4 linked regions of the Homo sapiens genome follow. The protein of the gene in region 1 purifies or fractionates together with the protein of each later gene. This does not show direct contact. Each region holds a gene or a part of one and is shown on either strand. Other genes may lie near its edges. The genes, in order: ZNF382, IPO8, CCDC50 and GTF2IRD1.

Region 1 (8,064 bases):
TGAGCTATGATCGCACCACTGCCCATCACAATTAACCTCATATTTTCATTGCACCTTATATGTGAATGTGGAATGACTTAGAATATCCACATAATAAGGTTTTAAATTTAAGCTTAATAATTTATTATTATCAGCCACCGTTTTGTTACTCTGTTAATAGTAACTTTGCTAATCCTCATAAAAATCCTTTGAAATTGGTACTATTATTATATAAATAATAAACTATAGAACAGAAAGATATTGAGTATATTGCCCAAATTCACACACAGTATTAATAATTAGCAAAACCTTAGATTTTAATTCAGATACTATAGAATAGGGGTTGGCAAACTTTTCTGTAAAGGACTAGATAGTAAATATTTTAGGCTTTGTGAGCTAAAAGGCAAAATTAAGGATATTATATAGGAGTTTATATAAAAGAGAGATGAAAAATTTCCCCTTTGTTTTTCCTTTTTTTAGAGATAAGGTCTGGAACTCCTGGCTTCAAGCAGTCCTCCCTCCTCAGTCTCCCAAAGTGCTGGGATTACAGGCGTGAGCCACTGCACCTGAACGCTACAATTTTTTTTTTTTTTTAAGATGGATTCTCACTGTCTCCCAGGCTAGAGTGCAGTGGCGCGATCTCGGCTCACTGCAACCTCCGCCTCCCAGGTTCAAGCAATTCTCCTGCCTCAGGCTCCCGAGTAGCTGGGATTACAGGCATATGCCACCATGCCCAGCTAATTTTTGTATTTTTAGTAGAGATGGTGTTTTGCCATGTTGGTCAGGCTGGTGTCGAACTCCCGACCTTGTGATCCACCCACCTTGACCTCCCAAAGTGCTGGGATTACAGGTGTGAGCCACCGCGCCTGGCCACCTCCACAAATTTTTAATTGCCAAAATCCAAAACTTTATTTATGGACACAAATTTAAATTGCATATAATTTTCACATGTCATGAAATATTACTCTCCTTTTTTTTTTTTTCGTGGTCAACTATTAACAAAAAGTTAAAACCAATCAGTTCACAAGCCATACAAAAATACAGGCTACAGGCTGGATTTGGCCCACAGGGCCATAGTTTGCAAACCCCTGTTCTAGACCCAGAGACCATTATACCATACTCACACAGTCTACACAGTTATGTGACTTGGGGGAAAAAAAGAAAAAAACACCTGGCCGGGCACGGTGGCTCACGCCTGTAATCCCAGCACTTTGTGAGACTGAGGCAGGTGGATCACCTGAGGTGGGGGGAGTTCAGGACCAGCCTGATCAACATGGAGAAACCCCGTCTCTACTAAAAATACAAAACTAGCCAGGCATGGTGGCGCATGCCTGTAATCCCAGCTACTCGGGAGGCTGAGGGAGGAGAATCGCTTGAACCCAGAAGGCGGAGGTTTCAGTGAGCCAAGATCGCACCATTGCACTCCAGCCTGGGCAACAAAAGTGAAACTCCGTCTCAAAAGAAAAAAAAAAAAAAACACGTGATGCGGCCAAACCTCATGCAAGAACTAGCTGGTACCATATAAATCTCCTAAGGTATCCCCTCGGAAAAACTTCCTGCCCTTCTTAACAGCTCTCTCTGCACATACTCTGCAATAATATTCTAACTCCTAAGGTCCTCTAAAACAAAAAAAGTTACTATAACCATTCAAACGATCTCCTATCTTGCTGTTTTTCCACTCATGTCTCTGAAGAAAATCTAAACTATCTAATGTGTAATTCTACCTAAGCAATTGGTCTCCTCCGTAACAAATCACCGTGTGAAGGCAGACTATTTCTATGTCATGAGAATGCTTAAACAAAAAGAGCACACAGGAGAAGTGAACATACTGTCAAGGTGTTATATGAAAATTAACTCTAGGAAGGGCATCTGATGAGGTACTGGAAAGAAGGAGATCTGTCTTCATAATGTCATCAGTAACTGGGAAGAGAAGGACTAGAGACCAGGTAAATAGATAAGTCACTATTTGGTGAGCATTTCAAATGAAGTTATTCCACATCCTGAAAAACAAAAATGCATTTCATAAAACAAAGAAAAAAATCAAAATGACCTCCAGCTTTGCTTTAAAATGTGCAACTACAATGCTTTTCTTCTCTCAGAGCTCTTCTCTTGGAATACAGCAAAATGTGGAAAGAAAGGGAATCACAATATACTCAGCCTTTCTTGGAGCCCAGACAGGCTAAATAAGAACACATTCTTCACCACCGGCAAGCTTCCATAACCCATGCTGAATATGACCAGATGGAAGTATGAGAAAGACTGGAATATTGTTGACTCTTCCCTTCATAAAGAAAAGTCAGGTTCACCAAAGCCTGGGACTGAAATGTTTCTGTATTCACAATAATTTCCTTTAGACAGCTATGAAAATGCTGTGGATCTGCAATATTCAACTTGCCCCCACAGAGCTTCCAAAAGGGATCTTTTGGCTAGGCACGGTGGCTCACGCCTGTAATCCCAGCACTTTGGGAAGCCGAGGCGGGTGGATCACCTGAGGTCAGGAGTTCGAGACCAGTCTGACCAACATGGTGAAACCCCGTCTCTACTAAAAATACAAAAATGAGCCGGGCATGGTGGTGCATGCCTGTAATCCCAGCTACTCGGGAGGCTGAGGCAGGAGAATTGCTTGAACCCGGAAGGCGGAGGTTGCAATGAGCCGAGATTGCGCCACTGCACTCCAGCCTGGGCAACAAGAGCAAAACTCCATCTCACACACACACACAAAATCTTTGGAGAAACGAATCCTACTCCTGGGGCCTCAATATCATATCTTCCCAGAACCTTGCCTTGGGAGCAATTCCAGCTCTAACATCTCCATATCAAACACGAGGCTGTGCATATCAGAACACAGCCTTGTCCATGTGAAACACAAGGCTGTGCTTTTTCAGTTGGAAACTTCATTCTGGATCTCAAATATCCAACTTTCTTTTCGATAGCCATTTGACTGCACACTGTGCAACGTGGTTATAAGGTGAAATGACTGAGGCAGTGAAAGAAATCCCAGTATAACAAACTCCAAGAAACCACGTAACTTAAAATTGGCCCCAGAGGTTGGCGAGGCTGCATGCCACTGTGTATTATGCATTATGAAAGCGACAGGGGCCATGCTTTAGAACAGAAGGTCTCAGAGTCTTCACAGACACAGATCGAGCCATACGGGGACCTTGTCCACGTATTCCTGAGCCCCAGAACTGCAGAAATCAAACTCTACAAAAGCTGCACCAGGCCAGTTTTGATCACAGTCTCCAGTGGGTCACAACAGCGCTGTCACAGGATCACTGATAACAGCATGACACATTCATAGTCACCGCTCAGCGCCGTCACACAAACGGCCCCGCCCCCACTCAGTCCCGCGGGCCCAATCGGGGACAGTCAGGGCTGTCCCGGGCTGTGCACCTGCTGTGCACACACACCCCCTGCTGTGCACACCCCCCGCCCCCCCGGGACCATCACAGGCGCGCCCACTCACACCACCACACACGGACGCAGCCACAGAACGGCACACACAAACACAATCACACAGTCTCCCTCCCCAGCAGGTGACTTGCACACAGGCCTGGGGCTTCTGCCTCCACAAACCCTCTCCGCGTCCCATGAACCCAGGTCCCCTGCCGTGAGCTCTTCTCGCATCCAGACCCGGGTCACCTCAACTCACCACATGGAAAACGAACACCAGGTCAACGGAAAAGGGAGCCGGGGTCCTGGCAGAAGCGTAGTGCCAGCCGCAATAGGGCGGCCGTGGGTGCAAACGGAGGGGAGCGCCGGCAGCTAGCACCGCGCGGCGACTAACGGGCCGCCCCGGAGACTCCTGGGAGCTCAGGCCCACGCGCGAGTGCGCAGGCGCAGACGACTCACCCTGGGCCGGGGGTGAGGCTTGGTGGGTGCCAGGGGTGCTGAGGAGGCCAAGGAGGGCACTGGGAGCTCCGTTCCGGGAGAGCTGTCTAAGGACGCGGAACCGGGTGGGGAGGCCAGGGAGGTAACCAAGAGTCCGAGCCGGGCCTGGAAATTCTGAGGAGGAAACCGGGACCGCGGTATCCAGACGCTCCGATCTGTACGAGCCGGGCCTCGGGCGTGGTCCATGGGCGTGACCTTGAGGGTGACCCGGAGCGAGCTCCGCGAAGGGGGATTTTGCCCGTTCTGATCCCGCGGAAGCGCCATCGCTGGCGGCGGGTCCCCGCGCGGAGCGGGCGCTGTGTGTTCGCGCGCGCGGGCGCGCGCTGAATAGGGGTGGCCTCCTGCGCCCAACCTGCTGCATTTTAGGTGCTTGCCTCTCTTTGGGATGTTGTGGCCGATTGTGTGTGAAAAGTGAACGGAGTAGTGTTGCTGCGCGAGGTTTCCTCTGCGTGTGTCTATTTTTAGATTAGGTGTGAGTCGCATTTGAGACTGCCTTTGAGTGTGGAGAATTGCAAGTGATTTGTAGGTGTGGTTGTGACTGCCTGGAGTCGTGTTAGCTGCTGTCTGAGGTTGTGAATGACAAGTGGGGCCTGTAGGTTGGTGGTTCTCTGAAGGATGTTTGATTGACTGTGACTCTGCATGTGTTTGTAACCTACTGTTACTTCTGGTGGTTTTGTGGCCTTAGTGACCTAAATATTTGAATGATTGAGGAACTCTGTTATGACCATGGCTAGTTGGTTATGTAAGACTTGATTATCTGAATAGTAGCCATTAAGCCTGCCTCCAAAACTGTAACTAAGTAGCAATTTAGCAAATAAAATAGAGATAACAGTATCAGAGGGGAAGAGATGATTTTCATAATTCCCAGATTCATTTCCTGGAAACACCATATTAACTAAAACCAGTATGTTGAAATGAATAGCATTCCATTGGGGACATGCAGGAAATTTTTTTTTTTTTTTTTTTTTTACCATAACTACCACTTTTGTTGTTGTTTTTTGTTTGTTTTAAGACAAGGTCTTGCTCTTTTGCCCAGGCTGGAGTGTAGTGGCATGATCTCTGCTCACTGCCACCTCTACCTCTGAAGTTCAAGTGATTCTCCTGCCCCAGCTTCCTGAGTAGCTGGGACTACAGGCTTGTGCCACCACGCTCGGCTAGTTTTTGTATTTTTAGTAGAGATGGGGTTTCACCATGTTGCCCAGGCTGGTCTTGAACTCCTGACCTCAAGTGATCCCCTCCCCCCGCCCCCTCGGCCTGCCAAAGTACTGGGATTACAGGTGTGAGCCACTGTGCCTGGCATAACTACCACTTTCAACACTTGTATATGAGTGAGGTTTCCTACTCCCTTAGGCTTGCTAAGATAATAAAAAGTATTTGATAGATTTTTAATAAGTCCAGTCTCACTGTAGTAATTAAAATAGTTATTTTGCGGGCCTGGTGCAGTGACTGATGCCTGTAATCCCAGCATTTTGGGAGGCCAAGGTGGGCAGATCACCTGAGATCGAGAATTCGAGACCAGCCTGACCAACATGGAGAAACCCCATCTCTACTAAAAATACAAAATTAGCCGGGCATGGTGGTGCATGCCTGTAATCCCAGCTACTCAGGAGGCTGAGGCAGGAGAATCGCTTGAACCCGGGAGGTGGAGGTTGCGGTCAGTCAAGATTGTACCATTGCACTCCAGCCTGGGCAACAAGAGTGAAACTCTGTCTCAAAAAAAAAAAAAAAAAAGATTATTCTCAACTACAACATAGACCAGATAGGCAAAGATTTAAAAGTTGTCAACTGTCTTCATCAGGGCTTGGGAAGGTATTCTCATCCACTACTATCAGTGTAAATTGGCAAAAAGTCCAAGAAGAACCGTTTGGAAATACACAGTAAACCTGTGGTTAGAGGTAGATGGAAGGCAGAGCTGCAGAGGGAAAAACACAGTGTTCCCTCTCTTCAAGCTAAAACAGGTTCCCCAGAATCCTGTATACTTTACCAAGAGACTGGGTTTCTGGTGTTTGTGAGGGAGCCTGATTTGTCTGTTTTCCCACTAACTACCATCCTGGACATCTGAAGGGTACACAGGGTGGACAAGTGCTGAAATAGTGAACATTCATGCAGATTTAACTGAGTTAATTCTGGGAGTTCTGAGTCAAGTATGGTCTCACATACGTATATCCTCCATCTTTGCTTTCTCAGGACTGTTTCTTTTTCCAAAAGAGGAGCTCAAAAGAGAAAGTTCATCTAGAAATCTCAAAGCCATGTCTCAGGTGAGATGATGTTTCCTCTCTTTCTGAAATAACTTTTTTTCATGGTGTATGAACATGAGCTTCACTGTCCTTTAACCTTCCCTGATATTGGGATTTGCTTCCATGAAATTAGTCTTCAGTCAGGGCCAGATTAGGCTGAGGCAGGCAAGTGGCATGAGGTGAAATATTTAAGGGGTACCCTCAGGGCTGTGCCCTCCTAAATTTTGCATTCTAGGTGCCTCACCTGCCTCACCCTGTATCCAGCCCTGTTCACAATTTCTCCATTCCAACCAAATCAACTTAAGCCTTCCCCAAGTGTACCTTCTGGTTGTACATATTCATTGGGTATATCATTCATCATCTCCTTTCTCAGTCTTCTCACAAACAAACTGCTGGAATAGAAAGGTATTGTCTTGATTTAAATGGGAATATATGGCTTGAATGAATTTAACTTGTCCTGATGCTGATTTGAGACCTAAGCTGTGAGTAGTCATGGAGCAGACGTGGAAAAACCTTGATGATCTCCGCTAGCCTAGGTTTTGCAATGGTACGTTGGGAAATAGAAGTGGTAGATCCCAGCATTAGTTTCTGGAAAGATGTCCTGCTTTGTGAGGTGTTTAGGATAGCAATTTGATTGCAGGCTTGTAAAGGAAACACGTTTTATGTTCCTCCTCTCTGATCTTTTTTCATTCATGTCTGCTAGCCATTCCTACAAATTGTGGGCTGCCAGTGAAAACCTTTCCAGTATTCCAATGCTGTTAGAGATTTGTTATTTTCTTTTTAGTTTCTTCTAATTTTTTATTTGCGGGTGCAGGAGAAGGAAATCCATATGCCAGGCCACTTTTGAAATATTCTATTGTTGATCAAACAGTACTTTGTCCTCTTTTCATATCTTTCAGAAAATTCCTCTTTAGCTCATCCACCAACCTTTAAAATACTGGTTTTCCTCAGATGCTAATTGGTTCTCTTCTTCTTCACAGTCCGTTTTTCTCTACGCACAATCAGATTCACTCTGAAGGCTACACTTAGTGTGATTCTAGTGACTCTCAAATACCCCTCTCCACTCTAGACCTCTGTCCAGAGTGTCAGAACCGAATATTCAACCTCCAGTAGCTATCACCACCTGTATGTTCCACAGACAAAGTACATTTCCAAAGCTTACCTCATTACTTCCTTTGGTCCAGCTTACATTTTCTTCCGTTTCCCATTTTCACTTTCTAGTCCCAGCAGCCATGCATTTGCCTATGCAGATAAAATGCCTGTATCTTTTCCACTCTACAGCCAATTTACGACCATCTCTGTTGTAATGGTGGTCATGTAGGAGCAGTTGTCCTCTGTCAGCCCGCTGACACTTCCTTAATCTAGGAGACATTTCTAACCATGGTTACTTAATTGTCATTTCCACCTAACATGTGATAAGCCTTTTCCAGTCTTCAGGAGTATTACCTCAAAACTTTTATCACATAACGTGTGTCAACTTATGTTTATTGATGTTCTTTACATTCCTTAAAGCAACAGACCCAAAGTAGGGCATGCCTCACAGTAGAATGTATAAGACGGTCTATTGGAAGGAAATAAAATACTAACAATTTACATTCGAGAGCAGTATTCATTAACAATGTAGATTTTCATAAATGCCTATTGATGGTTTATAAATAGCTACAATGTTGGGAATGTGTTCAGTATATCTTTAAGACCACTGTTCTGTAGGAAAAAAAAATCTAGTATCATGTCATAATATCCCCATTGCCTATCTCCATATACCTTTTCCTTCTTAGAGCTCAAAGACTGTTTCCTAACATACTGTGCCTTTTGCTATTTCCTGATTTACTAACTGGTTTTTTTCTCCCCATGAATTTTTAAAAGCTGATGCCCTGTATTCCTACAAAACAAATTCGTTGTGAGTACAAAACTTTTATGTCCTCAATGAAGCCTCGGAGTACAAAATGAAATTTTT
Region 2 (7,364 bases), on another chromosome or scaffold:
AACACTTGGCTCCCACATCTAGTCCTTTCCAGTTTTTTCTGCACATCATCCATCACCGGGTAACTCCCCTGAAGTGAATTACCACATCTAAAAGGTCACCGCCTCAGAACACAACTTTCAACGCTATTCCAATGGGCAATGGGATGGACCACCTCAGTCCAGAATTCAAGGCCACTATAGCCCAGCCCAACTGCGTTCCTTCACAGTCTTTAAGCAGTGGCCCCTACATGCTGGTTTAAAGTTGCTTGTCACTTGAGAAGCATCTTTAAAAATACATCTCCTGAGATCCTACTCAAGACCTAAAAGCCTCCTTGGTGATTATGACACACCCATGTCTGGAACTACACTAGGCCACATCCTCCATATTTCCATCTCCACGTTTATGCTGTTACGTTTCCCATGCTTTGGAATATAGTTTCCTGTGTTCTCTGCCTCCAATTCCTCTGAATTTCAATAAGAACATCTAGGTAGTTTTTTCTTCATTAATGTTATTTGTAGCAACACTAAAAAATGCCAATATATTAAGCTAATATTGCCTTATTAGTAAAAACATTTACATGTAAGGATGTTCATTTTAATAACCCTCATAATGGTAAAAACATTGGAAACAATCTTAAATGTCCCACAGTGGAACTAAATTACAATGTAACTATGGAAATACTATCTAACCATAAAACAAATAATCTATATTAATGAGATTTAAAATAATTTATTTGATTAATAATTTTCTAAATATCCTCATTGGCTTGTTTTTATTCTGTAAATTTTCCATTTCCATTTTCTACTAGGTTACTGGTCTTATGTATCTGAGGATGGCCTCTGTACACTGTGTACATTATGCCTATTATGCATATGTGGCAAATATTTTCTCCCCCCGAATCATTTATGAGTCCTGTAACTGTAATTATACTGTTCTTTGTTGTATAAAATTGGCAAATTACTTACAAAGTAAAAAGTCACCCTCTTACGGCAGCAATTTCATTCTAGGGATTGTGAATAACTAGTAGGTTGTTAGCCACAATTTTTAAGCAATGTATGCCTGAAACACTTCATTCTTTGCTATAAAAATGCTTGCCCATTTATGCCTAAAGGATGAACAATATACACAGATACTCCACATATTACTTTTGCAAGGATAACATACAGGCTCACCCTGCTACTTCTCAATGATGAAAGCTGCTAGGATTGGGTGATAGGTGTTTCATTATTTTAATTTCTATCATTTCATGTATGTATGTTTGGGGATTTCTATCATAAGGAATAAACAAAAAAATTTTTAAAAGAACCTAGACCAATCTTGGGCAAATATCAAAACAGGAAGAAATGAAGAAAGAGTTTAGAAAAAAAAATATCAGAAGATGTGGGGAAGTAAAGACATACTTATCAGAGCTTGTGTAAAAAACTGATATTCATCCACACTATTGTCAAGGTCAAGTGGAGTACTGAACCCCTCAAGCGCGGTTTCTTCCAATACTTCTTCATCCCAGTCATCATCTTCCTCCTCCTCATCTTCACCTCTTCCATTATTTGACTGCATTGCTTGAGCAGTTACATTTGTCTCCTCTTCATCACTTGAAATCTCCTCTGTGAACCCATTAATTATTTAAAAGGAATCAAAACACATAAGGACAAAATATAAAACTTCACGACAAAAACCAAAGACTATAAAACTACACTCTGGAAAGGAAAAAATCTTCCACAAAATTTTAATAAAAATAAATCTTATCCCTGGTCTAAAGAGGAGAGTCAAAAAATAAAAATAAAAAATAAAATAAATAAACCTTATCTTTACTGTAGAGTTTGCTAAGTTGAGAATGTCCTTATCCTCCTCACTGAAAACAAGTTCCCTAAACCTGTTATCCAGATGAACATTACTACTGTTAGGCTATGCAAGTTCATTAATACAAGAATATTATTCAATTGCAGATTTCAAAATTACCTTTGTTTAAAAAAAAAGTGACTGTACGGTCAGTGCATGTGTTTTAAACAATGACTTCCTATTGAGAATTCAGTCCTCTTAATTAACTGAGTTGATTATAAAGTGCTTAGAAATGCCCAAATGAGATCATTTCTGCTAGTAGAAACAGTAAAAATACAGATCCAGCCATCCCACTTCAGGATATATATCTAAAATATTTTAAATCAATACGTAGAACAGATGTCAGCAGCCCTGTGTTCATCGCAGCATTATTCACAATAGCCAAGTTACAGAATCAACCTAAGTGTCCATCAACAACGGATGAATAAAGAAAATGTGGATTCTTTAAAATGAAACACTATTCAGCTTTTAAAAAGGTAATTCTGTCAATTCCAACAACACTGATGAACTTGGACATTATGATAAGTGAAATAAGCCAGGCACAGAAAGACACATACTGCCTGTTCTCACTTATACATAGAATCTAAAACAATCAAACTCATAGAAGTAGAGAATAGAATGGTGGTTACCAGAGGCTAGAGGTGGTGGGAATATGGGAATGTTGGTAAAAGGGTACAAAGTCTCAGGAAGAATTAGGTTTTTGTTTTGTTTTGTTTTGTTTTGGTATCTATTGTACAGCATGGTGAATACAGTTAATAGTATATGTACATTTCAAAATTGGCAAGATTGTAAATTTCAAATGTTCCCACCATTAAAAAGGGTATTTAAGGTGATGGATATATTAGTTTGATTTAATCATTCCGCATTATATTCACAAATCATAACATCACTTTGTACTCCATAAATATATAATTTGCTAATTTATAATAAAAAGAAATAGCAAAAATGTAAAGAAAAATAGCTACATGTCGCTTGAAAAGTTAAAAACTTGAACTACATTATGTATCACCATGGATTCTGTATCTATTTTCAGTGTCAATCTGTTCCTAGCAGTTAGATTGTAACTGAAATACTGGAACAGGAAGGCAGTAAATGCAGAACAAAAATCAAGATAAGAGAGAAATCCTGGAGTAAACCCAAACCAGGTAATATTAACCTAAAACTAGTTCTATTAGACACACCATATTGAAGCAGGTAGATTGAACTAGGTAGTTTTAGGAATAAGGCACTTAACCAGAGTTTGGACCAAATACACGAAAAAATGCATGGCAAATTATAACTATTAATACAAAAAGACTGAGAAATACCTCCACTAGTTAATCATTCCATACTTTAGTAGGAAGTACAAGAAAGTGTGGGATATTACCAGAAAATTTTCCCTCAAGCCATACAGTATAAGCCAATAAAGAGTTGCCAAAACAAGAAATTAGAGATCATAACATACTGGAAAAAATAAAAGAATTCTACAACTGTTGACACACAGTTAGCTAAAAACAAAACAAAACAAAACAAAAATCACACATGCAACACTTCTAATAAAGAAGCATTTCTTCAAAAGACCTACACAGATTTCAGAAAAACAAATTAGAAGCTGTATTTTGTGCTGTGGAGGGGAGAAAAAGGGTAGTTTATAATCTCTGGTATATGAACAAACTGGGATGATGCCAGTTAAAAGTGTTTTAAATCTATCCATGCTAAAATCACAGAATTTAGCATCAAAAATAGAGCTGTATGTTTACCAGGAAGAGTTCTGATTTTTCTCAGCTAACAAAGTATCTGTTTTTAACCAGGAGAGGAAAAAATCCACCTGGAATAGGAGAATGCTACTTCCTAGTCTCTAGCAAGTAGCTCCGCAATCTCATCATTAAACAAAACAAAGGTCTAATATTCAACTCTAACAATCTTATTCTGATTCTCAAGTATATCCACTTCATTTATGTACTTTACCTTAATTTATATTTAAATCACAAATATGGACGTCTCTCAAATGTAATTTTTGCTAATGAGTCACCTAAGAACCATTCCAGAAAAAGAAAAAAAAGACACTCTCTACTAATCTGTGGTACTAACACTTCAGCTCTTAATGTAATGATTCATTTAACTCATGGCTACTGCCTTGATGAGGCTGTTAGCACAAACAAGAAAGTTAGATACTAGATTGCTAACTTACAGTCAAGACCATTTGATTGTTATAAATGTGTTTCCTAATGTGTAACAGCATCTATTAGGCTCCATAAAAAAAACCGCTGAGTATATTAGGTGTCAGAAGGTGCATAAATCTAAATTTATATAGCATGATACAATTAATAGCAAGTCAACCAAGCCCAAAATATTTGTTATATGTGTAGCAGGCCGAAGAATGTAAATCTGTTTAATGTCTCCATATAGACTAGTATTCATATAAAATGCATACACAAATCAAAATCAATTGTAACATTAATTTCAATTAGAAGACTTTACCATTTTCTTCCATATCAGCTTTCTCTGCTTTTGAACGATCTTCCCGGTTTACCAGTTGTCTAGTAGCACAGACCTGCTTTAGGCCAAGGAAAAGGAAAAGAATTGAGGGAACAATCTGTCCCACCACAGCATCTACTGCAGGAGGTCGATTTTGCAATTCCAAAAGGATACTCAGTCCTATTATACACATCTTCCGGTCATGATGCCTGCAAATTTTGAAGAAAAAAAAAATGTAGACATGAGAAGTGGAATAAAGAACAAATTCTGGAGAAACTACAAAAAGAAATGTCCAAGGCATACTCTAAGGTTCATCTGTTGGTATCATACAGAGACATTCCCTGTTTTGTACTGTATGAAATGCTATGTAAATCAAATTTTGTAAACCAATTATTTTCAAAGACCTATTGGGAGTCTGCAATTAACATGGTGAATCTTGCTGTAATATCAATTTATGATTAATATAAATGTTATATATGGGCCTCGGCATAAGGAGTTTTAATAAAGCAGAAATACCTATATTTGACAGCATAAAAGTCCTATACAATGGTTGGGGGGAATGAAGAGTTTCTTAGACTCTTCCAACATTAGATTGATCTACAAGGTTTCTCAGCACACATAATCTACCCAAACCCTAAGAGGTGAAAGATGTTTCAAAAACTCAGCATCTAGTAAGATAGTAAGCTGAACTTAATTTAAGCAGTCTACTAAACTCCTGTGCTATAAAATAGCATAAGAAAAATATAAGGACAAGGAAAATTTTATTCAGAAAGAAAAAAAGTTTGACCAGTAAACATTAGACATTTTTCTACTAAATGCTTCCTCTAAGTTGCTTAAAACTAAAAAATTAAGAACTAAAAGATTACATTGGCAAAACATTCTTAAAATTGTGTGAATAAAAAATTCACTTGCAGCGATTCAATGTGTTTAAAGTGCGAATAATATAACAAATCCAATAATGAATATTCTACAGGCTTCTGTTATTCTTCATTATTTGCATTCCTTGATTGATTCAAGTCACTAATGCCCAACTAGTACGCTATAACAGAACTGTACTTGACCTGAGGACCTTCTCATCCATGCAACCCCTAAATACATGCCACACGGATCACAGCAGAAAAGAGGATTATCAAGCAGAGCTCGAAAGAATCCAAGGAAGCACAACCCAAGGACTCCCAGTCTACACAATAGCAGGGAGACTGCTTCCAGTGCTAATAAACACATAAGAGAACCAACCGCTTAACTTTAAATTACCAAATCTCTACTCCCTAAATCTTTCTCAGAGATAACTTTAACAACAATTTCTTTGATAGTATGTTCTTCCCTTCAAGGTTTTAATAACAAATCTCAATCAGGGATTAATTCCAGTGTCCTGCAAGTAGAAAAATTAGAACACGCATAGCAGCTTGTAAATATGTTCCCCCATTCCTAACGCCCCACCCTAATCCAGGCCTCCATCTTCTCCTGCCTGTGGCAGCAGTGTCTTAACCACTGTGGGGAGTCTGTTCCTCTCAGGAAATTTTTCTAAATGATCTCTCACAAAACTTAAGAAGAATACTATTAATTTCCAGTTAGATATTAGATAGTGTTTTAAAACAAATTAGACAGCTAGCTCAATTTCTAGCATAACACAATCACTAATCTGTGTTGGGTGACCTGAGGTGGGCACATAACACTAGTTGGAATCTCACTCTTCCTATTTTTTTGAGATGGAGTCTCACTCTGTCGCCCAGGCTGGAGTGCAGTGGCACGATCTCAGCTCACTGCAAGCTCCGCCTCCCAGGTTCATGCCATTCTCCTGCCTCAGCCTCCCGAGTAGCTGGGACTACAGGTGCCCACCACCACGCCCTGCTAGCTTTTTTGTGTGCTTTTTTAGTAGAGATGGGGTTTCACCGTGTTAGCCAGAATGGTCTCGATCTCCTGACCTCGTGATCCACCCGCCTCGGCCTCCCAAAGTGCTGGGATTACAGATGGGAGCCACCGCGCCCGGCCTCACTCTTCCTATTTTTGAAAACTAGGAAGAGTGCTTCACATAAAACCAAATTCTCCTACTGGGGCAGCACCTGGGCTACAAATAACAAGCCTTCTGACTCCACTTTTGAGAACAGGCATCCCTGAGATCTGCAAAGAGTTAAACATTCTGTGACATTACATTTTATCTTTGCCAGAGGGGTACCATCCTTAGAAATCCAACTCCATTTAGAATGTTTTTACCCACTGACACTTAATCATGGAACCCAGACAGACAACTAATTCTTGTTGCCTAGAGATACAATGATACACTTGTGTTTAAAAAAAATAAATAAAAAAAATAAAAGCGGGAAAGGGCTACATCAAATTTTCAGAGGCTGCATTCTTTCCACTAGATTACCCTGCTGAAATGCATTCTTAATCCTCTAAAAATTAAATATTAACAATACACTAAAAATAATTCCTAAGACATGAAAATTATCTTTGTACATGCTATTATACACAAATATTAAAAAGCAAACTTTCCAGAAACAGAAAAGCAGTGTAAAATCCAAAAGACACATACCCAAGAAAACAATCTGTATCATTCATCCATTGATTTATAAACTGTACAGTGATAGGTCCAGGGTTGTGAGGCAACTGAATTCGTTCTAAAGTATGTAGCAGCAAATCAGGGTTGTAGTACAAGGCAGCAATTGCAACCTGAAGACACATAGTACGAAGCTCACTAGTTTTGACCCCTCGAGTTAATCTCTCCAAAACAAGTTGAACGAAGAGTGGAATGCACTAGAAGACAAGCAAAAGAAAGTCAACCACACAGACAGCCCAAGTAACTTTTATAGAAGCTGAATATTGGCAGAGCATTCTCAATAAATAAGACAGTCTTAATGGCAATGAGACTTTTGACTAAATCATTTTAGAGGTATTTAAAAGATTTATATTATTATAACAACCTAGAGAGACTAAATAGACAAAAACAAGTCCTATAGCAGTGCCAGAAAATCTCCTTCCTTCTTAAGTAAATTAAAGTCAGCTGAAGATTGTCCTGTAAGAGTCCACGCTCAAACAGTGTCAATAATCCCTATGTGGACACAGCCACTTGCACATCTAAGGTGAA
Region 3 (7,630 bases), on another chromosome or scaffold:
CTGGAGCAATTCCCCTGCCTCAGCCTCCCAAGTAGCTGGAATTACAGGCATGTGTCACCACACCCGGCTAATTTTTGTATTTTTAGTAAAGAGCGGGTTTCACCATGTTGGCCAGGCTGGTCTCGAACCCCTGACCTCAAGTGATCCACCTGCCTTGGCCTCCCAAGGTGCTGGGATTACAGGCTTAAGCCACCATGTCCAGCCAGCCAAGTATTTGGTTTTAAACATTTGTATTCCTTTGTGCAAGGGATTGTATTCCTCTGTACAAGACCTTTAAGCACCTCTTCAAGAAATTTAGTCTTTGTGTAGCTGCTAACCTTACTGCAATATTTATTTTCCCTTATTTTCCCATACTACTTAGTTGACAAATGGCAATCAAGCTCACTTGTTCTCCCTCTCTCTGTCTCCCCCCCATGTACACATATATATATCCCTTCAGCTTGACTTGCTATTATTTTTCATTGTATAAATATGAAATTCTTGGCATTTCAATATGGCATTTGTTTAGGGAAAAAATATGTAGGTCACTAGAGAAAAATGTTAATTTTTTTCCCACTGTGAATTGCCTTCTGTTTGCCTTATCTTTTCAGATAGTCTTTAAAGTTGGGCAATATTCAGGCAGCTATTTAGAACAGTTTCTCAGAGTGGATTTGGGTCTCTCATTTGAGAAAGATTTGTAGTTTCAATGAAGTTTGTATATTATAGGAATTTAAGTAAAATCATCTGAGTTAAGTTTTGGGCAAATGTTAATCAGAAAGATAATCTACATCCCTACTTTATGTAGTCATTTTGGAGAAATGGAGGAAAAGGAAAATAACAGGACTTTTTATAGCTGTGATAAAATGGGTAAAGAAAAACCTCCATTTAAATAAGGAAGGGGAGACAAAATGGAAGGTCCTGGCCTTAAGTCAAATTCCAGATAGTGCTTTCAATATCCAAAGCTTAGGCCTTGTTTACTTATAGTAATGCTATATTTTTCTTTATCTGCCCTGTGATTTCGCTTCGTGTCCTTCAAAGTTTTTTTATTGTAATTTTAAAGGAAAAAAACAATGTATTTTTATTTGATAACTAGGCAAAATCATTTGCCATTTTTTATTTCATAAATATTTATTTTTCTATCTCATACAATGATCAGTTTTACTTTAAAAATTCTGCATTTCTCTTGCCTCTCATGTACTTCATCCAGTTATTTATTATTGTAAAATGTTAACTGGAGATACTGCATTCAAAAAAAAGTCGGACCACTTAACACTTACCAGGAATGTTAGTGTTTCAGCTGTTTTAGTAAGTGACCAAGTAAGCTATCACCTTGTGATAGCTAATTCAACATCTTTATTGAAAATTTGTTACTTTTTTTAAAGGTTTTTAAAAGATTACAATTTTAAAATATTTTATGTTTATTTTATTTTTGTGTAAAGCAAACACTTTTAAAATAATATCAGAGTAATTATTACCCTATGAATAAGGAGATAGAAATGAAATTCAGCCAGTTAAATCCTCATACTCTTTCTCATTCAAATAATATAATAATGTTTGAGACTATAGAAGCAACTCAACTGTATTTTAATGAACTGCCAGACACTTTTCACTGTGTTCTCTGCTTTTTACTTTGTCATTTTTATATAAATGTGAAAGCATTTTGTTGTTGTTGTTGTTGTTCCTGCTGCTAGAACACATGCAGTTTAATTTTTAGGCCCACAGTGTATTATGCTTTAATGTTGTGATGTAAACTAATACTTCTGGCCTGGGAAAACCTTTCTGTTTCTGTATCTTTGTCCTTTGGAGGCCAGGCCTCATTAACACCAGTATTGTTGAATAAGCACAATATATGACGGAGCCTTATCATAAGGCTGCTTGACATAGACACCCACTCTCCTCCACATTTTATAAATCATTGTTTGGAAGTAAAGTTAGATAAGAGTCAAATTAAATGTTTTGACTTGAAAAATATTTGACTTTTGCGTTCAAACCACTGTTAGACGTAAGTATTTTATTAGACATAAGTATTTTATTTTGGGACTAGACAGTTGCTTTACATGTATTTAAGGGAACATTGTGATTTTCAGAAAGTGGCTTTACATACTATTGAATTGCTATTTCCCAAGTTACTTTACAACCAGCAGCAGCATACCAATAAATTACAAAAGCAGAAAATGAAAATTAACCCTAGGTGTTCTGATGATAGAGAAATAGCTAAATTAGAAAAGAAAGATATGGATAGATGCTTTTAGGAGGAAAACCTTTTTAGAATGGCAATGACCACTTGGATCTAGGTCAACATATTCCAAAATGTGTGACCTTGGGCTTTGTGTTTACTGAACTCACTCTAGAAAATTCTGGACCTGATTCATTAACCCCGCTTTTCTTCTCTAATGTGTCCTGAAGCTGAGCTAGATGATGAGTAAATTCTTTGCTGACTGTTGCTCATCACTTTCTCTCAAAGTTAGAACTTTTCAGTATAAAAATAATTAGCTTTTAACTGATTATTAATTTTCTTTAATAGTTTCTGTCAAAACTTGTCTAAAATTTGTGTTGTGCCAAATTGGAAATACCCACTATAATATGGTGCATTCAGTTTACTCCACAAGTGGTTAACATTTTAAGTCCTAGATTTTTTATGTCTTGCCTTTGTATAAGCATCGCTTTGGGGAATACCAAGATGATTCATTATTCAGTGATTATTTTCTTGAAAGATAACTATGATGATTGGCTGTAAAATCTTCACCCTAATAAAGGAGTGAGATCTCTGTGTAAACAGCTTTCTGAAGGACTGATAATAGAATAGAACTTGCAGCCAAAGGCTTTTTCCCTTTTGAGAAGACGGTATTTGTGTAAGGAGTGCTAAGGTAGACTTCATTGTACATAGAGTGCCATATTCTGTTGAAACGATCATAACAAAATCAAAACCTCATGCTTCAGCAAAAAGGAAAAAAGATTTTTAAATTACTTTGTCTATTACTTACTGCTCATAGAGAAGTGACTATATAAAATGGTCCAATTTTCTCATTTCTGGTGGTGCCTGTGAGTCTTAAAGCCATATCTGCTTATCTTACTGTTGATAGAATACTTTTTTTCTTTTTAGCCCATGATAAGTAATATGGGCAGGTAGAAGCAAACTGGAGACTGTCCTGTTAATGCTGCATGGGGCACAATGTCTTTCAAATTATTGGTGGAAGAATCTCTTTTATCCATGGCGAGAGGTAAGAATATTAAAGAGTCAGGATATTGTTGCTCCTGGTATTTAACAACTGTCATTAGAAATGCTGAAATTTAATTGTAGAGAAGTCAAGAAAGAAAGAGTAAACTGAGAAAATCTTACTACTACAGAGTCACTTTTACAATGAGACCTGCACTTTATGCCAGCACTGTTTGTGAGGAGCAGTACTGCCTTAAATTAGTTTGACTCTGACTGATGTCAGTGTACGTTACTTCCTTTATGTGACTGACAGTCAGCTTTCCATTGAGATATAACATTCACAGATGATCCCCAAGTATCCTTGTCATCAGAAGCTTTGGACCTTTTCTGCCACTGACTTGTGGCTGATCTGTAACACAATAAATACATAATTTTATTTCATGTTGTCTGTCCACCTCTGAATAAGCAGTGGCATGACCAAAAAGACTGGTAGAAGGAGAGAATTTCTTGGCCAAATCCTTCATACCAGGTACCACTTCTTGAGTAACTGAGAGTTGACTGTCTTCTATGGTGACTACATAGAAGATATTTCCAAAGGTTCTGTTATGCAGTGAAGACATTCAGATTATTTGTAAGAATTTCACCAACACCCTTGTGTATTGAAATGCTTAACCATTAACAGGGAAAAAAAAGGAGAAAACCGAACAAAACAGAGACATTTACTTGAAATGGGAGGTTTGCTAATGTGAAGAGTGTTTCTGTTTTATTACTTATAAGAGAAAAGCAGGAAAACTTTTGCTTTGATAAGAAAGACACCAGAGTGGTGATTCTGTTTGATGCCACAGGCTAACACAATCGTGTAATCATGTTGAGTTGTAGAAATATATGGCCCTAAAAACCATTCTCTTTCCCTTATATATATAAATATGTGAACACTGCCTAGTAACATTTTAATAGATTTAAGATGCATTTGTACATTCTCAGCAAACTAGAAGAAAATGTTTTTTCTCTTTTTGAGTTAACTTCATAGCATAGAGAACCAGCACTGTGCAGGTTTCAGCATTTCAGATAAGGGCATAATTAATTGTGTAACTTAATGCCCTGTTATTCATTGCTGAGGTTCATATAAAGAATAGAAAAATTGAAAGATGGGTTTGGGCGACATTTTCTTCCCAAAAGATCAAGTAAGGAGTAAGAACAAGTAAGGGAAGACAGCTAAGAGAACATACTATGACATATCATAGAATTGGGATACATTTTTGTTGCACTGGATTTCAGGCTATACTGCTAAAATAATTTCTACCTGTTAAATTTTGTGAGAGGGTTTTTGACATCAGAATTTTTGTATTTCTGGTCAAATTGGTCTTGGAAATCCCTATGGTCTCTAATTTCAGCTCTTGCTGTAAACTGCAAGCCAAATGCTCTTTCTCAGAAAGAGCTATATTTTTCTCTTCTTACAGGCAACCCAATATTTATTTCATAAAGTGTTATAAATATTGAGAAGATACACTGGGGAGATAGCATATAAAAATGATGCTCCAAAATGAGAATTCTATATGGGGCTTTCCCTAAGAAGAATCCATCCCAGCACATATTTTGAAAAGGTGCTGAATTAAAAAGTACAAGAGTTTGCTCATATAAATCAAGTTGCCCAGGAAACCTGAGGTGATGCTATCATTTGTCTCATAATTTAGAAACGTGATCTCTTGAGAGAGAGACTACGCATTGCCTGGGCACTTTCAGATTCCTTAGGAAGTGCCCCTTTGATATTTGGAATGTGGATATATTTATAAAACAAATGGATTGTTATTCCAAATCCACATGGATTTATAACCAAGCCCCAGAAGAATAGGCAGCTTTGAAATAGCTAGTTCGTGGAATTGAACAGAACCTTGATGGAATGCAGTTGCCTGTGTGAGGACAGAAAACAAAGAGGCTGCCTCAGACCACATGCCTATCTAGAGATTAAGTGAATTTGTGAGGGACATTTTGTGGATGCCTTAAAGATGACCAGTGGTGGGTTCTGATGGGAATATATACACTCATCTGGACTAGGCCAATGGAAGCAGTCTCTTTCAGTTCACCTCCGTACAGCACAAGTTGTTCCTGCTCATGACCTCATTGAGGAAAATGAGAATTGTGGTGCTGGTGACTTTCATGTGTCTTGGGAGGTTGAGGTGTTCAACATCGTTAAGGCACTCCCAAAACGCAAACCTCCTTTTTTAAATGCCAATTGTACATCTACATTAATTCATCTATGCAAACTTGTGTTTTCATGGTTTGTTTTTTACACTATATTTCTCATTAGGTTCTTTAAACATCAGGTTTAATATTGATATTATGAATAATTTTTAAACCAAAGTATTCTATAAGTCTGTGTGCTTTGTTTTCCTGGATGGTTTGACCAAGGTAAACATCAGTCTTGTCCTTCTCTCTTAATAAAGTCATCCATTTGTTAAGTCAGTGGTCTCTGTCTCATGTTTTTGTTTTGTTTCTTTACAGCATTCAAGGACAGGGAAACTTACGAGAGTCTTATTATAATTATTATTATTTACAAAATGACCCTAATAGGTCTGTTTAGTAACAGTGAAATTTTTTCTTACTCCATTTCCATACACTTTCTGTAAATATGTATAACATGATAATGATGCCTGGTGTATTGAAATCCTCAATAAATACTGCCAAGTGTGGATCAGTTGGAGAAGTAGCTTTGTTTTGTGTGTGGTGTTTCGTGGTTTGATTGATATATTTGGGAGGAAAAAAAACAGGTAAGTGGATGTTCACACAATAATTCCAGTGATTAAAGACCCCATGCACAACTCTGCACTATACCTGACACCTTGTGGACACTTCAATGTATTTTGAGAAATGGATATTAATAACTGATTTATTCAATATTTTACCTTCATAAGAATTTTTTTTTTCTTATTTGGTTTGATAGAATAGCCACAATGTAGGAAATGATTCTGCAAAAATTAGGTATCTTAAATATAATATTTTCAATGACTACTAAATTTATTTTTAAAGATGTCACTATTTAGCCACCCCTACAGTAGATTCTCTAGGCCTCAGATTCCTCTGTGGCAAATATAGCAGGAAATCTAAATGATTTCTGTAGTCTCTGCTAGATCCTGAGTAGTACCAGTGATGTGCAGGTGATACTGTTTTATTTAGTTGAAGATTAGTATGTTGATTTCAACCTTTGGTCTCTAAATAAATACTAAAGTTGCCAGTGGAAAAAGTTGATGCATCTAGAAGCCAACTAAAAAATTAAATATGCAAGTAAAACAGATCCCTTTAATCTGTGGTAAGAGGTACTCAAGGTGATAGGGTGGTTTATGGGGAATATGACTTGAGTCTGATTGTCAGGCTATGGCCATGTGGCCATGTGAAAAGGTAGCATACAAGAAAGTTCCTTCTTTTTTTTTTTTTTTTTTTTTTTTTGAGATAGAGTCTTGCTCTGTCGCCCAGGCTGGAGTGCAGTGGCGCGATCTCGGCTCACTGCAAGCTCCGCCTCCCGGGTTCACGCCATTCTCCTGCCTCAGCCTCCCAAGTAGCTGGGACTACAGGTGCCCACCACCATGCCTGGCTAATTTTTTTGTATTTTTAGTAGAGATGGGTTTTCACCGTGTTAGCCAGGATGATCTCGATGTCCTGACCTCATGATCCGCCTGCCTCGGCCTCCCAAAGTGCTGGGATTGCAGGCATGAGCCACCGCGCCTGGCCAGTTCCTTCTTACAACAGCTAAGAGACCACTATCTACCTCGCACACCTTCGAAATTTGGTGAAACCTTTAAGAGGGTTTTGGACTACTACAAATCCTAGAACCATGGTTTCAAGACAATTTTGCCCCCATTTCAAGGGCAGGAAGACCAATGCCCCTCCTCCATTGTGTTTGGGTATCATGCTTAAATGAACGAACATAAACTAAAGGCTGCTGCGAAATCAGTGTACTAAAGAAATCTACAGGAATGAGATACGGGGTCCTAGTCCAGGTTTTGCTATGAGCTTGTTTCAGGACCTTGGGACATCATTTATCCTGCTGTACCTCAGTTCACTTGCCTGAAGCACTACTTCAAGTATAACATTTGAGGATTCCTGCGGTCAACGGCTGCTGGTTTCTTTTAAGATGTTGCCAGGAAGAGAGCAGCTTTATTCACTGCTGGGTCCTGTAAAATCACAAAGACTTCCTAGGCATTCCATCATGAAAGACAACCATGATCTTTTGTTCTTTACTGCAGTATTTTGCTACTTCTGTCTCCACATCCAGTAGATTGTCATTAACTTGTTATGTGTTTTTCTAACCAATACCCATCTCTATGTTTTATTCCCAAGGCTGAAATTTGAGCCTCTTTCCTCAAATGGTCTTCGGATGTTCTTGTAAATTAACTCCACTAGTATGTCTTGCATACCATACTTCCAGGACACACCCACTTTTCTTATCGATTCCTCAGCCTAATGATGCAAATTTGGTTTTGATCATGTAGATCATAA
Region 4 (7,364 bases), on another chromosome or scaffold:
TCAGTGGTTGCTGGGGTCAGGACAAGAGACAAGGATGAACAAACGGGCTTCAAAAACTTTTAGGGGTTACAGGATTGTTCTAACTCCTGGGGTCAAGCAATCCTCCTGCCTTAGCCTCCCAAGTAGCTGGGGCTACAGGCACACATCACCACACCCGGCTAATTTTTTTTTTAAGAGACGGGGTCTTGCTATGTTGCCCAGGCTGGTCTCAAATTCTTGGCCTCAAGTGATCCTCCCGCCGCAGCCTCCTGAGTAGCTGGGGCTACAGGCATGAGCCACCTCGCCTGGCTAATTTTTGTACTTCTTGTAGAGATGGAGGTTTCACTATGTTGTCTAGGCTAGTCTCAAACTCCTGGCCTCAAGCCATCCTCCCGCCTCAGCCTCCCAAAGCGCTGTTCTATGTCTTGACGGGGGTTGGACGACATAAGGGTGTGAGCCAGGCAAGTTCCTGGTATAGCATAGCCTTCACTCCTCAACGATATTTTTAATAAAATATAAAGTGGGGCCGGACACAGTGGCTCACGCCTGTAATCCCAGCACTCCGGGAAGTCAAGGTGGACAGATCACTTGAGATCAGGAGTTCAAAACCAGCCTGGCTAAGATGGCAAAACCCCATCTCTACTAAAAATACAAAAATTGGCTGGGCGAGGTGGCATGCACCCATAATCCCAGCTACTCAGGAGGCTGAGGCAAGAGAATTGCTTGAACCCGGGAGGCAGAGGTTGCAGCGAGCCGAGATCGCGCCACTGCACTCCAGCCTGGGTGACAGAGTGAGACTCCATCTTAAATAAATAAATAAAATAAAATATAAAGTGGGCCCTTCTCATGTGCCAGCCGGGGGCTGGGGACCAGGACCTAATGAGACTCCCTCAGGCCTGACGCCTCTGCAAGGTCCTCACTGGCTGGCGTAACAACAGATGGATAGACGAAAAGATACGGACTTGCTTTGATGGTGGTTCTGCCAGTAGCCAGAAAATGCACCTTGAGACCCTGCTAGACCCCAGCCAGCAAAGAGGCCTACCCTCGGCCAACCATCTAAGACACAAACAGCCTGGAGGGTCTCCCCTCTGTCACAGGGAACAGGAGGGGAAAGGGCTAAGCTGCCCCCTGCTTACCTACCCTCCCCAACCATGCAGCCTCTTCTGCATCCTCAAGTGCCCAGGACCGCAAGCCCTCAAGCCAGGCCCTCCCACCCTGTCTCCACCACAGACCTGCCCCCGGGGGTCCCACACACCCATGCTGTGGCATCCCCACGGGGTCACACCAAGTCCCTTGGACTACAGCACCACACTGGGACCCAGGCAGGTTGGGGAGAGCCATCTCCCTTTTACATCCAAGAAAACTGCCCAGGCGGGCGGAAGGTGGACGTGGACCCCATGACCCCGGCCCCTTACTTTCCCCCCATTTCCCCCACTCCAGAGGCTGCAGCTCAGGTGCTGGGAACCTGCCTCAGGTGGCAGCATGGCAAAGGTGCAGGAATTCCCAGCAGCCTCCGTGCTGTGGGGTCAGCCCCTCAAGTCCACAACCGCCCCCGTGGCGGGGTCTCCCAGCTTTGAAAGGTAGCCATTGCAGACACTTTCCCAGCACTCAGGCCTTGCCAATCCTACATGAAAATCTTACTTGGTGTATAATAGGGTGTTTCCAGCAATTTCCCACCCCCTCCTCCCAGCATCTCTAAATATACGGACCACATTGGCCAGAAATCCCTGAAGACAAGGACTTCCCAAACTGGGGATCCCTGGGCACCCCTCAGGCCACCTAGACTACACCCTCCATGCCACCCAGGCCAGTAGGAGATCTAGACCCTCGAGCCACAGGCTGGAGGAGGCCCGACCAAGGACATTAGAAGGATACTGCCTGTAATCCCAGCACTTTGGGAAGCTGAGGTGGGAGGATCGCTTGAGGCCAGGAGCTTGAGACCAGCCTGGGCAACATCGCAAGACCCCATCTCTAAAAAAAAAAAATTTTTTTTTAATTAGCTAGGTGCAGAGGCTGAGGTGGGAGGATCACATTGAGCCCAGGAGTTGGAGGTTGCAGTGAGGTAGGATCACGCCACTGCACTCCAGCCTGGGAAACAGAGTGAGACACTGTCTCAAAAAATAGAATAAAATAAAAATGAAAAAGGACCCTGCTGGCTGGGTACAGTGGCTCACTTCTGTAATTCCAGCACTTTGAGATCACTTGAACTCAGGAACTGGGCAACATGGCGAAACCCCATCTCCACCAAAAATACAAAAAATTAGCCGGGCACGGTGGCGTGTGCCTGTGGTCCCACCTACTTGGGAGACTGAGCCAGAAGGATCGCTTGAGCCGGGGAGGGAGAAGCTGCAGTGAGCCGAGATTGTGCCACTGCACTCCAGCCTGGGTGACAGAGTGAGACCTCATTTCAATACAAATTAAAAAAAAAAAAGCCAAGATTCAGTGAATCAGCTCCACTCGATTCAAACTCGCTCCAGATCATCCCCGGGGCCTCCACTGAGCCCTGATCCCAACTCCAGGGTCAGCCACACACACCTCTGGCCCCTCCCCAAACCCCATCCATCTCACCGCCCCAGAGGCAGCAGTTGTAGGGTTGGCAGATAAAATGCAAGACCTCCAGTTCAGTCTGAACTACAGATCAACAACAGGTAACTTTTAGCTAGAAGTTCATCCCAAATATTGCATTAGTCCTTGCTTGTCTGAAATCCAATTTTAGCTGGGCATCCTTATTTTTATTTGCTAAATCTGGCAACCTGAAGCAGGTGGTCCTGAAAGAGGGTGACAGGTGGGCACACAAATAGCTCTGGGTCAGCCAGGCCCCAGCTCAGGGGCGAGAGAGTTCTGTTCACCGCCTGAGACACTCCCTAAGACCGTGTAAGATAAAGTACATCCTCACCCATTTCACCTATCTTATTCAGGACACCTATCTTATCTTTTTTTTTTTGAGACAGAGTTTCACTCTTGTCGCCCAGGCTGGAGTGCAATGGTACGATCTCAGCTCACGGCAACCTTCACCTCTTAGGTTCAAGCAATTCTCTTGCCTCAGCCTCCCGAGCAGTTGGGATTACAGGCGCCCGCCACTACGCCTGGCTAATTTTTGTATTTTTAGTAGAGATGGGGTTTCACCGTGTTGGCCAGGCTAGTCAAACTCCTGACCTCAGGTGATCCGCCCGCCTCGGTCTCCCGAAGTGCAAAGTGCTGGGGATTACAGGCATGAGCCACCGCACCCGGCCCTAACTTATCTTAAATGGGCAAATTTCCAGGGCATGAACCCAGGTTCCTACAGACCTGGCCCCTTTCTGCACGACCCTCCATACTCATGAAGCCACAAACCTAGGTGCAGATTGGCCCAGAGAGAAGGGAATGGGACCGAGAATGGATCAGTTCCACAGGACGAGTGGAGAGAGAGCTACCAAAATAGGGTGGGTGAAGAAGTGATGATGAGGCCGGGCCTGGGGGCTCACACCTGTAATCCCAGCACTTTGGGAGGCCAAGGAGGGCCAATCACTTGAGGTCAGGGGTTCATTCAAGACCAGCCTGGCGAACATGGTGAAACCCCGTCTCTACTAAAAATACAAAAATTAGCCAGGTGTGGTGGTGTACATCTGTAATCCCAGCTACTCGGGAGGCTGAGGCACGAGAATCACTTGAACCCGGGAGGTGGAAGTTGCAGTGAGTTGGGATCGTGCCACTGCACTCCAGCGTGGGCAACAAAGCAAGACTCCATCTCAAAAAAAAAAAAAAGAAAGGGGGGTGATGGACCAGGGGGCTTTCCTGAAAAGCTTTCTGCCTCCAAAACCCACATTACCACACCCCCTACAGGCCAAAGCCCCTCTGCCACACCTGGAGATACCTGACTGAGAACTTCCAAAGTAGGCCAAGAAAGTGACAGGGTCCTGCCTCCCTTCCGGAGTATGGAGCCTGGGTAGAAAGCACATGTTTCTATGAGATGGGGCTGAGGGGATTCCGAGAGGCCAGGCCCCTCCTGCCGTATCTGGAGCCCCCAACATCTACACCTTGGAGACTGTTACCCCCTCACCAGCAATCATCTGTCACAACACACTGTCTTCTGGCCAGGTTCACGCATCTCCTTCTCCCCCAGAAACCATCCTTCCCACCACTCCACCTCTGCTATGAATTCCTTCAGGAAATTCCCTTCCAGTCACACTAAGGGTCCCTGTCCTAGCGGCCCCATATTATCCCGGAAGCCCCCCAATCAAAACTGAACTCAGGACCGGGCGCAGTGTCTCATGCCTGCAATCCCAGCACTTTGGGAGGCAGAGGCGGGCAGATCACTTGAGGTCAGGAGTTCTAGACCAGACTGGCCAACATGATGAAACCCCATCTCTACTAAAAATACAAAAATTAGCCGGGCGTGGTAGAGCATGCCTGTAATCCCGGCTACTTGAGGCAGGAGAATCGCTTGAACCCAGGAGGCAGAGGTTGCAGTGAGCCGAGATGGCGCCACTGCATGCCAGCCTGGGCGACAAAGTGAGACTCCCTCTCAAAAAAAAAAAAAAAAAAACAAAAACGTAACTCAGCATGGATTCCAAGCCCTGGGTCCTGCTCTGCTCCTCTGTTTATAAATTGGCCCTGCAGGTCTTCTTCCATGGGTGTCCCCTGAAGCCTCTGCAGGCCCCATGGAGCTGGGCATACACCCCTGGCTTGTCCCAAAGAACCTGGCTGTGACCCTGGCTGCCACGCATCTGAGAGAGAGATACTTACAAACGGCGAGAGTCAGAGAACTGAGAGATACAGAGAGGATGACATTGGGGAGCAAAGCCCCCAGGGTTAAGGTTGGGAGAAGACACAGGCTGGGGTAGTGGGGAGAGAGGGGGCCCCAGGAAGTTCAGGGAGAGACCCTGGGACTCCTACCAGGGTGGGGAACTTGCCCCAGAGATGAGCATTTAAGAAAAATAGGAGAGAGTCTGCTTAGCCATTTAGGTCAAGGCTCAAGAGCAGGATTTCATTCATTCATTCATTCAAACATGTAGCCATTTAACAAGTATTTGAGGAGCAAGCCTCCATCCCTTCCTGTCCCTAGTGCAATTGGGGAGAGAGATGTAAACATCTGAGTAAGATCAATGTTGGGACAAAGGAAGGAAAGGATGTTGGCTAGGCGCGGTGGTTCACTCCTGTCATCCCAGCACTTTGAGAGGCCAAGGTGGGAGGACTCCTCATGCCCAGGAGTTCGAAACCAGCCTGGGCAACATAGCAAGACCCCATCTCTACAAACAATAAAAAATTAACCAGGTGTAGTGGCCCTTGTCTGCGGTCCCAGCTACTTGTGAGGCTGGGGTGGGAGGGTGGCTTGAGTCCAGGAGTTCGAGGCTGCAGTGAGCTGTGATCACACTACTGCACCCCAGCCTGGGCACAGAGCAAGACTGTCTCAAAAAAAGAAAAAAAGAAAAAAAAGAGAGGACATCATGGGGATATAAAGGTGGAACCATGGCCAGCCCTGAGGACGAGGAAGTCTTCAGCCCAAAGATACCACAGCCAAGCCAAGTCCTGAAGGAGAGGAAAAGAGGCAAATTCTATAATCCTGACCCCCTACCCTAGCCAGGCAGGGCTAATAAAGGAAGCCCCCCAGCCTCCTCAGGGGAAAGGCCAAGAAGAACCTTCGAGAGAAGAGGAACTGTGTGTGCAGAGGCCAGGGGTAGGAGGAAGCCAGGCCATTCAGGAAAACGGCAAGACTACAGAATTTTTTCTTTTTTTTTTTTTAGATGGAGTCTTGCTCTGTTGCCCAGGCTGGAGTACAGTGGTGCGGTCTTGGCTCACTGCAACCTCCACCTCCCGGGTTCAAGCGATTCTCCTGCCTCAGCCTCCCGAGCAGCTGGGATTACAGATGCCTGCCACCACGCCTGGCTAATTTTTTGTATTTTTAGTAGAGATGGGGTTTCACCATGTTGGCCAGGCTGGTCTTGAACTCCTGACCTCGTGATCCACCCACCTCGGCCTCCCAAAGTGCTGGGATTACAGGCGTGAGCCACTGCGCCCGGCCAGACTACAGGATTTATGAGTCGGCTGAGGAAGCAGTGAGTGGTCAGAGACTAGACCCTGAATGAGAATCATCTGGGAGCTGCAGTCTATGGTTCCAAGGTCATGCTTAGGACGTGAATGTCCCAAGCCATCACCCACCATCCACAAGACCCCAGGTCCAACAACCAAGCTGTCACCAAACCGTGGATGGCCTGGCCTCTGGAGTCAAGCAGGCTGCAAAAACAGCTACCTCCAAGACCCTAGATTACAGCTGCCACTCAGACTATTGCCAAACACCAAGTGCTGACGACTACCACCTCATCAGAAGGCTAGCCGGGCTCCTGGGAGGCTGCCTTCAATGAACAGATAAAAATTATTTGTGATTAGCATACTGCAAATAAATGACCCTTCTCCCAACATCGAGAGAACAGTCCTTTTAAGTAGGTTTAGCGTGCCCCCTACAAAGCTGTCTTCAAGACCCAGTTTTACAACCATCGGCCTTAAGTTCTCGAACATTTTAAGAGTGCAGGCTCTGAGTGGCTGCGGAGTTTCAACCCTTCCTTCCTAGTTTCCTCTGTGGGGTCCTGTGGGACCCTCTGAGTTAGAACTGCCAATTTCTAGGTCACCCTCAGAACAGGCTGTGGAAGAACGAGGTGTGGACTTGAGCCTCCCACACCCCAGAGGCAGGATGGGGGTTCCGATACCCTGTCACCTTGGGGCCAAGCCTGTCCCTTGGTCCGCAGATGCCTGCTCAGAAGAGGTCAGAGTCTATCTCACACCCTCCTGGGCCCCAAATAGGGCGGTTCATGACGGCCACCTAACTACCTTATACCTAGCCCCTCCCTGCCAGCAGCCACCAGCCTCCAGCCACCTCCTCCTGCTTAGAATAAATAATCGATGCTGGTGCCCTTCCCCTCTGGAATGACACTGCTGAAATAAATGAGCTGCTTGGGGCACCTTCCAAGTCCCAAGGCCCCGGGCCAGTGCCAAGGAGTCAACAGTCCTGGCCACGGGGCAGCCAGACACACAGAGGCCGACCATGGCAGCGGCGCGCCAGGGTGGCTTCTAGACACCCCTCTCCTCTTCTAAGAGAAACCCCAGCAAATGCCCACTTCTCCAAAAACTGCGGGGGCCTGCCCTCCACTCCCACCCGCCAGGCCCAGGGCCATCCCGGGGTACCCCTTGGCACATTCTCCATCCAAGAGTCAGTGCTCCCCTCACAGGCCCTGCAGCGAGACCCCTATGTCCCAGCACCCTCGCTTCAGCTGGGATGGGGACACAGGAGACTCCCACCGCAGGACCTTGGTCCTGGGAGGTAGGGTCACTAGGCCAGACGCCAGAGCTCCAGCCCCCTCCAGCACTGCCAGGAGGGTGGAACGAACTCTCAGCGGCACAGCGGCCCCCTT

Evidence for each region.
Region 2: the proteins of ZNF382 (region 1) and IPO8 purify together in Homo sapiens (co-immunoprecipitation; 2 studies listed by BioGRID and IntAct, with this or other methods). This does not show direct contact.
Region 3: the proteins of ZNF382 (region 1) and CCDC50 purify together in Homo sapiens (affinity purification with mass spectrometry; one large-scale study listed by BioGRID and IntAct). This does not show direct contact.
Region 4: the proteins of ZNF382 (region 1) and GTF2IRD1 purify together in Homo sapiens (affinity purification with mass spectrometry; one large-scale study listed by BioGRID and IntAct). This does not show direct contact.

Annotation. Positions count from the first base shown.
Region 1 is NC_000019.10:36,601,495-36,609,558, forward strand, and holds the start of ZNF382 (zinc finger protein 382), read left to right. Parts: upstream 1-3,818; 5' UTR 3,819-3,853; exon of another isoform or gene 3,854-4,236; intron 4,237-6,057; 5' UTR 6,058-6,119; coding exon of another isoform or gene 6,120-6,128; intron 6,129-7,973; exon of another isoform or gene 7,974-8,007; intron 8,008-8,064. UniProt on the Homo sapiens protein: Functions as a sequence-specific transcriptional repressor.
Region 2 is NC_000012.12:30,632,703-30,640,066, forward strand, and holds part of IPO8 (importin-8), read right to left. Parts: intron 7,034-7,364; coding exon 6,813-7,033; intron 4,486-6,812; coding exon 4,280-4,485; intron 1,585-4,279; coding exon 1,381-1,584; intron 1-1,380. UniProt on the Homo sapiens protein: Involved in nuclear protein import, either by acting as autonomous nuclear transport receptor or as an adapter-like protein in association with the importin-beta subunit KPNB1.
Region 3 is NC_000003.12:191,392,834-191,400,463, forward strand, and holds the end of CCDC50 (coiled-coil domain-containing protein 50 long isoform), read left to right. Parts: 3' UTR 1-5,826; downstream 5,827-7,630.
Region 4 is NC_000007.14:74,455,018-74,462,381, reverse strand, and holds part of GTF2IRD1 (general transcription factor II-I repeat domain-containing protein 1), read right to left. Parts: intron 1-7,364. UniProt on the Homo sapiens protein: May be a transcription regulator involved in cell-cycle progression and skeletal muscle differentiation. May repress GTF2I transcriptional functions, by preventing its nuclear residency, or by inhibiting its transcriptional activation.